Regions from separate parts of the Homo sapiens genome. Here all the other regions are linked to region 3. Evidence: fine-mapped expression QTL. A gene starts in region 3. Each other region holds a variant in brackets. All regions are shown on one strand. Distances are between the middles of the regions.

Evidence for each region. PIP is the estimated chance that this variant, and not a neighbour inherited with it, causes the effect.
Region 1: its variant is the best candidate, but not a certain one, in a credible set for the expression of ARHGAP44 in unexposed skin (GTEx, PIP 0.62).
Region 2: its variant is the best candidate, but not a certain one, in a credible set for the expression of ARHGAP44 in prefrontal cortex (GTEx, PIP 0.61).

The regions. Positions count from the first base shown.
Region 1 is chr17:12,976,534-12,979,275 of GRCh38, reverse strand. The region is part of intron 18 of ARHGAP44 (Rho GTPase activating protein 44); the gene reads right to left. Among named protein-coding and RNA genes, the nearest start is that of ELAC2, 40 kb to the left of the region's middle. RefSeq lists a silencer at 1,710-2,004. The variant C/G (reference allele first, on the strand shown) is at 1,644.
Region 2 is chr17:13,572,248-13,575,004 of GRCh38, reverse strand. All of the region lies in intron 1 of HS3ST3A1 (heparan sulfate-glucosamine 3-sulfotransferase 3A1), which reads left to right. Among named protein-coding and RNA genes, the nearest start is that of HS3ST3A1, 28 kb to the left of the region's middle. The variant C/T (reference allele first, on the strand shown) is at 1,156.
Region 3 is chr17:12,787,947-12,790,703 of GRCh38, reverse strand. ARHGAP44 (Rho GTPase activating protein 44) reads right to left here and starts at 1,206. Exons shown (of 21, transcript NM_014859.6): 1 at 813-1,206. The coding sequence starts at 865. ARHGAP44-AS1 (ARHGAP44 and MYOCD antisense RNA 1) reads left to right here and starts at 420. Exons shown (of 2, transcript NR_104607.1): 1 at 420-561. RefSeq lists a silencer at 930-1,279.

The DNA.
Region 1 (2,742 bases), 190 kb before region 3:
AGACACCTCACTCTACACCACAAACCAGGGATTTGTCATCCTGATACGCTGATGGTAGATATTACTAATTGATCTCCACACTTCCCCCACAGTGTTCTCAATCCTTTCCAAGAAAATTCTCCAGGTGGCCTTTAGTGAATCAGGGGAGATGCCCCACAGTTGGGAGCCATCTGTCATCCGTGCTAGAACCTACCTGGATTCTGATGCCCACAGGTGGGGCATGAAGAGTCTGGGAACCCAAATCCTCTGCAATGGCTGTTTCTATCCCACAAGAGCAGGCACAACCTGGGCCGGGCATGGTGGCTCATGCCTGTAATCCAGCACTTTGGGAGGCCGAGGCAGGCAGGTCACCTGAGGTCAGGAGTTTGAGACCAGCCTGGCCAACATGGCGAAACCCTGTCTACACTAAAAATGCAAAAATTAGCTGGGCGTGGTGACATGTGCCTGTAATCCCAGCCACTCGGGAGGCTGAGGCAGGAGGATGGCTTGAACCCGGGAGATGGAGGTTGCAGTGAGCTGAGATCGTGCCACTGCACTCCAGCCTGGGCAACAGAGGGAGACCCTGTCAAAAAAAAAAAGAAAAAAGAAAAAAGAAAAGAAAAAAAAAAGGCAGGCACAGCCTATTTCTTTCCTAAACTGATCTAGAAACTCCAGGTGTTAATTTGGAGAAAATTCCAATAGGAATAGAGCACTCTCGTCCACTGAGGTGAGAAAGACTGGGAGCAGGGAGCTGGGCCGGGGAAGCCCATAGCGTCAAAGCACAGGTCATTTTCCTCATGCAAAGAAATAAAAGGAAGATCACATTCAATGTGGAGGCACATTCTCTCCCACTTGGGATGAGTCTTACACACTATACCTAGTTCCCCAAGGGGCAAAAACCATTTTATTCAGAGGAACCAAAAGAGCAGTAATTCCTTTCTCTATTCTGTTCATGAAAAACAGAAACAGAAAACCCTTGCCTCACTCAGGCTGGACAAGGACCTCAGGCTGCAGGTTACCAGGTACCCGGGCATCAATGCCAAATATCTACCTACCCTTCCATCTATCTCTGCCACTATCAAGAGGAAGGCCAGTCAACCAATCAAAAACATCTCATAATCAGCAAACTAAAAAATTGCTTCTTGTGGGTGGGTAGACTCTTCTTCCTTCCTTTGGACACACATCTATCCAAGGAATCTAGGAATGAGCTCTTCCTTCTGTTCCCTGCCACGAAACACACTTTTTTTTTTTTTTTTTTTTGAGATGGAGTCTTGCTCTGTTGCCCAGCTGGAGTATAGTGCCATGATCTCAGCTCACTGTCATCTCTGCCTCCCAGGTTCAAGCGATTCTCCTTCCTCAGCCTCCCAAGTAGCTAGGATTAAAGGCATGTGCCACCACACCCAGCTAATTTTTGTATTTATAGTACAGACGGGGTTTCACCATGTTGGCCAGGATGGCCTCGATCTCCTGACCTCAGGATCCACCCCCCTCGGCCACCCAAAGTGCTGGGATTGCAGGCGTGAGCTACCACGCCCGGCCCGGACACACTTCCTCCAGCACAGAAACAAGTATTTACCCACTTAGCCTTGTCCTCTTTCTCCAGCATAGGTGCAGCTGACCCAGTGGGGAGAGGTGGGGCGTAGGGCGGCTACTAGGGGCGCTAC[C/G]TGAACAAGGCATGTTTAAGGCACGTTTGAGGACAAGTTAGCTCTGAAGATGCATGACTCAGCCCATGACCTTGGTGCCAAGAAGCAGGAAGGAGAATTTTGGGGTTAGCATTCATGCTAAGCAGTTGGGCGGGATGTGGAGGCAGAGCCTGGCTGGACAGAGCCAGGGAAAGAACTGAAGGTGGGGCCTGGGGTAGGGAGTGGGAAGGTGGGAACCAGTCAGAGGCAAGGAAGGGCCTGCCATCAGGGGAGGGGGAGCCAGAACGAGAATCCGGCCACTCGAGGGAACATCATCTGGGCTGCAAACATCCAGGAAACAGAAACAAACAACACAAACAAAAACAATGGAACACCTGTTTGTACTGGGAGAAACCCATGCGGGGAGAGAACAAAAAGTGGTGTAAAACACAAAACACTAACATCCAAAGAAAAGTTACTAAACCGGTCAGCCCGGGCAAAGGGGAAAGACATTTGGCTATAGAGCAATGTGAGTTGGCTTTAAAATAATCGAAACCAGAGGGTGCCATTGCCTGCCCACAAGTAACTCTGCAAGGTCACCCACCGAGAATGTTCCTGGAATGCCTTCAGAGCCTGGGGGAATCCATCTTCAAGGAGCACTTTTTAGAAATATCATTTATATGCCAAATACCATATGGCACTGAGTCCCCTTTCTAAGATGGGAAACTAGGATGAAGCTGAGGAGTGTCCAAAAAGGAAGCAGTCCCAGCCCATCTCCCGCCTGTGGGTCCGTTTCCTCCTGGTCGGCCTCACCTGGCCCACCACTCTCAGACTCTGCTTCTCCAATGAACTCACTGTGCCCGCATCTGCATCTCTCAGGTCCATCTGTGGCCTAGCAATTACACAGCCAGGACCGAGCATCCTCTGAGTTGAAGTCATCAACAGCAACCCAGCATGCCCAGGGTCAGGTGCCCCCTCCTATGCTCTAAGACTATCTAACCCCCTGTCCCTTTGTCATTTCCTGGTTTTACAGTGAAAATACTTTTTTTTTTTTTTTTTTTTGACACAGAGTCTCGCTCTGTCACCCAGGTTGGAGTGCAGTGGCACCATCTCGGCTCACTGCAACCTCCGCCTCCTGGGT
Region 2 (2,757 bases), 780 kb before region 3:
AGTGGAAGAGGGAAGCATATGTGGATGCATTACAGGATGGTGGCAAGAGGATTAATTTGACTATAGGGGATATTTTGTCTTCAAGCAGTATTTCAAGGTGAGATGGGAAAGAAAAAGCAGACCCCCCTTGCAAGGGACCCTGGACATCAGTTTTAGTGTTTTACAATTACCATCTATTGACATGGGGAACATTTTTGAGCAGGGTGATTATGAGACATGCCCTTCATTTTTTTTGTGTGTTTTTTGTGTGTGTGTGTGTGTGTATTTGTTTTGTTTGGTTTTGTTTTCAGATGGAGTCTTGCACTCTTGCCTAGGCTGCAGTGCAGTGGCATGATCTCAGCTCACTGCAGGCTCCACCTCCTGGGTTCATGCCATTCTCCTGCCTCAGCCTCCTGAGTAGCTGGGACTACAGGCGCCCGCCACCATGTCCCGCTAATTTTTTGTACTTTTAGTAGAGATGGGGTTTCACCGTGTTAGCCAGGATGGTCTCGATCTCCTGACCTCGTGATCCGCCTGTCTCAGCCTCCCAAAGTGCTGGGATTACAGGTGTGAGCCACCACACCCGACCCACTGTTTTAAGAGTGATAGGGCCGGGCGCAGTGGCTCAGGCCTGTAATCCCAGCACCTTGGGAGGCTGAGGTCAGGAGTTCGAGACCATCTTAGCTAACACGGTGAAAACCCGTCTCTACTAAAAACACAAAAAATTAGCCAGGCGTGGTGACACACACCTGTAGTCCCAGCTACTTGGGAGTCTGAGGCAGGAGAATCACTTGAACCCGGGAGGTGGAGGTTGCAGTGAGCTGAGATCGCGCCACTGTACTCCAGCCTGAGTGATAGAGTGAGACTCCATCTCAAAAAAAAAAAAAAAAAGAGTGATATGGCAATGGGTATATACTGAATTAATTGAGCACAAGGATAGAGAGTACTGGGGTGAGAACTGCATTAGGGAATGGTCTTAGTTTATCTGCTGTAACAGAATACCACTGATTTAAACAACAAATACTGATTTCTTACTTCTATGGAGGTTGGAAAGTCTAAGACCAAGGCGTGGGAAGAGCTGGTGTCCAGTAAGGGCACTCTTTCTGGTTTGCAGACTGCCATCTTCTTGTGTATTCTCACATATCAGAGAGAGCAGAGAGAAGGAGGCAAGCTCCC[C/T]TGTGCCCGTAACTCCACTTTGGAGGCTCCACCCTCATGCCTTCATCTAAATCCAATCACCTCGCAAAGGCCCCCAGCTCCTCGTACCATCACATTGGAGATTACAGTTTCAACATATGAATTTGGGGGAGGGGTACAAACATTCAGCCCGTGTTGTTGACACTCACACTCAACATTGAGCTCAGTCACATGTTGATTGTGAGGATAGAGGGTTCTGGAGGTGGGAACTCTGCCAGAGACACAGCTACTGTCTTTTGGGCTGGTGGCGATGAAGACCTGGACCAGGAAAGACTGGAGAGGAAGAATCATCAGATTTCGATTTCTGGTTGGTTCAGGAGACTAAAAAGGAATCATAAATGATGACTTTCCCAACTTTGCAGCATGGTGGTGTGGAAATGGGTAGAACTGAGGGGGCATGGTTGTGGATAGACAGAGAGGTCAGGTGGGGAGCTTCGAGTTCTAGGTGGAACCTTCCATGAGACAGGCATAACACTACAAATGGAGGCTTGGAATGCTCTGCTTGGAAGTGAGAAGACAAAGCATGGATGGATTGAGTATTTATGAGTTGGAAGGAGGAGGAGGTCTTGGAAGAAGCCTTCCTGTGGGCATTGGGGTATTCTAAAATGCATTCAGAGAGGGTGGATGAGATCTAGGGCAACTGTAATGCCATAGAGGTTGGGGAAAGGTCATTTTAAATGTGGACAGGAAGGAGGCTAAGGAGAGCCAAGAATACTGAAAATCTGATGGATTTGTCAACTAGGAGATCAGGGTGAGGAATCTCATGGTGTTCAATGAAATCCAGACATCAGTGGAAAAACTTTAGTGGAGTTGGCTGTAATCTTTCTTCCAGGACCTCCTGAACTCCAGGACTCCACATAAAAGTCCTTTTCTGCTCATTGGGATCAGGCTGTTAAATAAGCAAGGTCTTGTGGCGGAAAAGGGTCATCTGCTTTCCCTAATTCAATATATACAATTTTAACTTATTCTTTTCCTGCCTCCCATATCCCTAACAGGACGGCTAGTTCCTTGAGTTTGTGTTTTGCTCAATTTTTTATTTTCCTGTGGTTTCTGGCACAGTGCCTTGCACATGGTAAAAACTCAGAAAATAGCTGTTGAATTCCCCGTCTACTTAATCCTGTAAAATAAAAGCATGGGTGTGAAGATCAGGCAGGTGAAATGACCTTAACAAATTAAAACACAGCCTGGACCTCTCCTCTAGGGAGCCCAGCCTCTATGAACAGAAGCCAGAGATTTAATTACAGCCAATACAATTGTGAGCCCTATATCAACCTCAGGATCAAATCCCTGTAGCAGCTCTCGCATACTTTCTGCTGGCCTCCCTTGATGCCCTTTTTTCATGGGTATTTCTTAGCACCCCGACTTTCTCTAAGCCTCCATTTACAATTTCCAAATGCATTGTTTTCCTAGTCCTTCCAGATAGGGTCCCACAAGAAAGTGGTCCGAGCGGTCACCCCCTAGGATGGAAAGGATCCTTGGACACAGGAGCCCAACCTTTGATCCTGCACCTGCCATATGATGACTTGATTTGGGATAAGTCAGTTCCCTTCTTTAGGACTCAGTATTATCCTCTCAAAAATACAT
Region 3 (2,757 bases):
AGATGTAGCCCATTTTCACCGTGATGGCAGCAGGCGGGGTCTTGCAGCTTCCCGGGGCCTGACTCTTCTGACTGTGGGGCCTCTGTCCCCCTCCCCTACCTGGCTGCGATTCTCTGCTTATCTCATCTTCCCGAGGACTTGGGCCTCCTTTTTGCAGCCTCCCTCCCTCCACTGAAATCAGTCCTAACATCAAGCAGGCAGCAACGCCATTCCACCAGCACCTTCCTTCCTCTCCCACCCCTCACCCTTTCCCCCCACCAAACGCCTTAAGAAACCCGGCCAGGAAAGTGATCCAGAATCTCGTACAGTCATAGTCCCTGAAAACAAACACGGCGGGAGGGGCAGGCCGACCAGGCCCAGCACTTTCCCTGGACCCGGGAGCAGCCCTGAACTCGGCGCAGGGGAGGGGAGGGAAGAGATCTCCGGAGACCGACTGCGGTTCGGCTGCCTCCAGCACAATCAGAGCAAACACCTGTTTCCAGGAAGACAGGCGGCCAGAGGGAGAAGGGAGTCCCGGGGAAAGGCAGGGAGGACGAAGCGAAGGGGCAGCCGGGGACGCAGGTAAAGGATGCGTCACACTTTGCGCTTGGCAACCGGAGCCCGGAGCAGAAGGCGGCGAGTGAGAAGAGCTCCGGGGTCTGGGAAGTTAGGGAGGAGGGGTCGCGCCTGCGAGCGGCGCCTGGAGGGAGCTGGTGCAGGGGAAAGGACTGAGGCAAGGAGGACTGGAGGCTGGGCGGGCTCCATCACCTGCGCGCCCCTGCGGATGCAGCCTCGCGGGCGCGCACCGACAGCGGTGCCCGCGGGTGACCTACCTGCCCACCGTCTGGTTGGCCAGCTGGCGCATGCGATTGAACTGCTTCTTCATCGTGGCCCCGCTGCCGCGCTAGCCCGGGAGCTGGGGAAGGACGGAGCAGCCCGGAGCCCGCCGCAGGGTTACATGGCTCCCGCGCGGAGCCTCCCGGGCGACGGCGGCGGCACTGCGGAGCCTCCGGGCGCCGTCTGGCCCGCGCGCAGCTCCCTCCCGAGGGCGCCGCCGCCTACTCCTCCCGCCGCGCCGCCTCCTGCCGCATCCCCCTCACGCGCGCCGCGCAATGCCCGGGGCAGAGCAATGCCTGGGGCCGTCCTCGGCACCGGCCCGCTCCGCCCGGGCTGCCTGCTCCCAGTCCCAGTCCGGCGCGGGGACCCGGGAGTCTCCGCAGGCTGGCTGGCCGGCTGGCCCGGCGGTCCCCGTGCGCCTGTGCGGAGAACGCCGTGCATGCCGGGACTTGTAGTTTCGCGCCCCGTGCCCACCTTTCCTCTGTCCAAAGTTTGCAAGGACAGTGGAGTGCGGAGGTGGGAGAAGGCAGCGTCACCAGCAGCTTTGCACTTTAGCGTTCGAGTAAGGGAAACGTTTTCCTGTTTTAAAAATGGCAAAGTGGGACCAAGAATACAACAGCAAATAAAGAAAGTGAGCATCTGTCTCTCATTGTATTTTTAGTGAATGTGAGGTATCAGTGTTCTGAATTCACAGAAGGGAGATTTATGCTAGCAGATACGTGGCTGATAAAACGGTCTAAGGTCACCTGATTAATGATGAGGTTCAAGGTTAAGCTTGAAACACAGGGGCTGACAGCAGATTTTGAACAGGCATAGCTTGCATCCCAGAAGTCTGATTCTTAATTTTTACCAAACCAAACCCATTAGGTAACCAGAAGCCAATATAGATAAGTGACGTTGTGCTTACTGGCCCAACCTGTCTGAGACAGCTTTTTTGTATGGCTTAGATGCCAATCTCGTATCTAGTCCCATTTCCCTTCCACCACCAGGAGACCAAGGGGCATCAGCTGCAGCACCCCCCAAGTGTCCTGCACCACAGCATCCCATTGGCGTCAGTTGACTCCTTGGAAGGGGTTGTGGCTTCTTTGGTCTCTATCCTTAGAAAAAGATAGGTGAGCCGGGCGCGGTGGCTCACGCTTGTAATCCCAACAGTTTGGGAGGCCAAGGAGGGTGGATCACGAGGTCAGGAGTTCGACACCAGCCTGGCCAACACAGTGAAACCCTGTCTCTGCTAAAAATACAAAAATTAGCTGGGCGTGGTGGCGGGCACCTGTAATCCCAGCTACTTGGGAGGCTGAGGCAGGAGAATAGCTTGAACCTGGGAGGTGGAGGTTGCAGTGAGTGGAGATCGCGCCATTGCACGCCAGCCTGGGTGACAGAGCTAGACTCCATCTCAAAAAACAAAAAAAAAAGAAAAGAAAAAAAAGAAAAAGATTGGTGATTGCAGTTAGGTTTTATCATTATATATCAAGGTTTTATCATTATATATCAAGTAAAAGCAGTATTGTTGGGTGTGAGGCACTTTGGATTAAACAGATAGGAGTTCCTGCATCAGAATTCCACATACCTGTTATATAACCTTAGGAAAACAGCTTAACCTCTCCAAACCTCTGTTTCCTCATCCCTAAATAGAAAAATATGCTGCCTGATCTTCAGTAAGAGAACTATTTGTTAAATTACAATAATCAAATTACATATAAATTTTCATATAGTACATTGCCGTATTCATTTACTACAAAATGATTATATTTAGCATAATAGAGAAAAATCCTGTTCATACAACAGAATTACTAATCTTATAAAGGAAGGATCTTCTTTGAAATAGGATATTTTGCATATGTTGATTATAGTTGCAAGATGTCCTAAATATGGCTCTAAGTATCTTGCTGGCTAGCTGAACAAAAAGTGGTTTGAGGCATGTCTTGGCTGAATGAACATGAA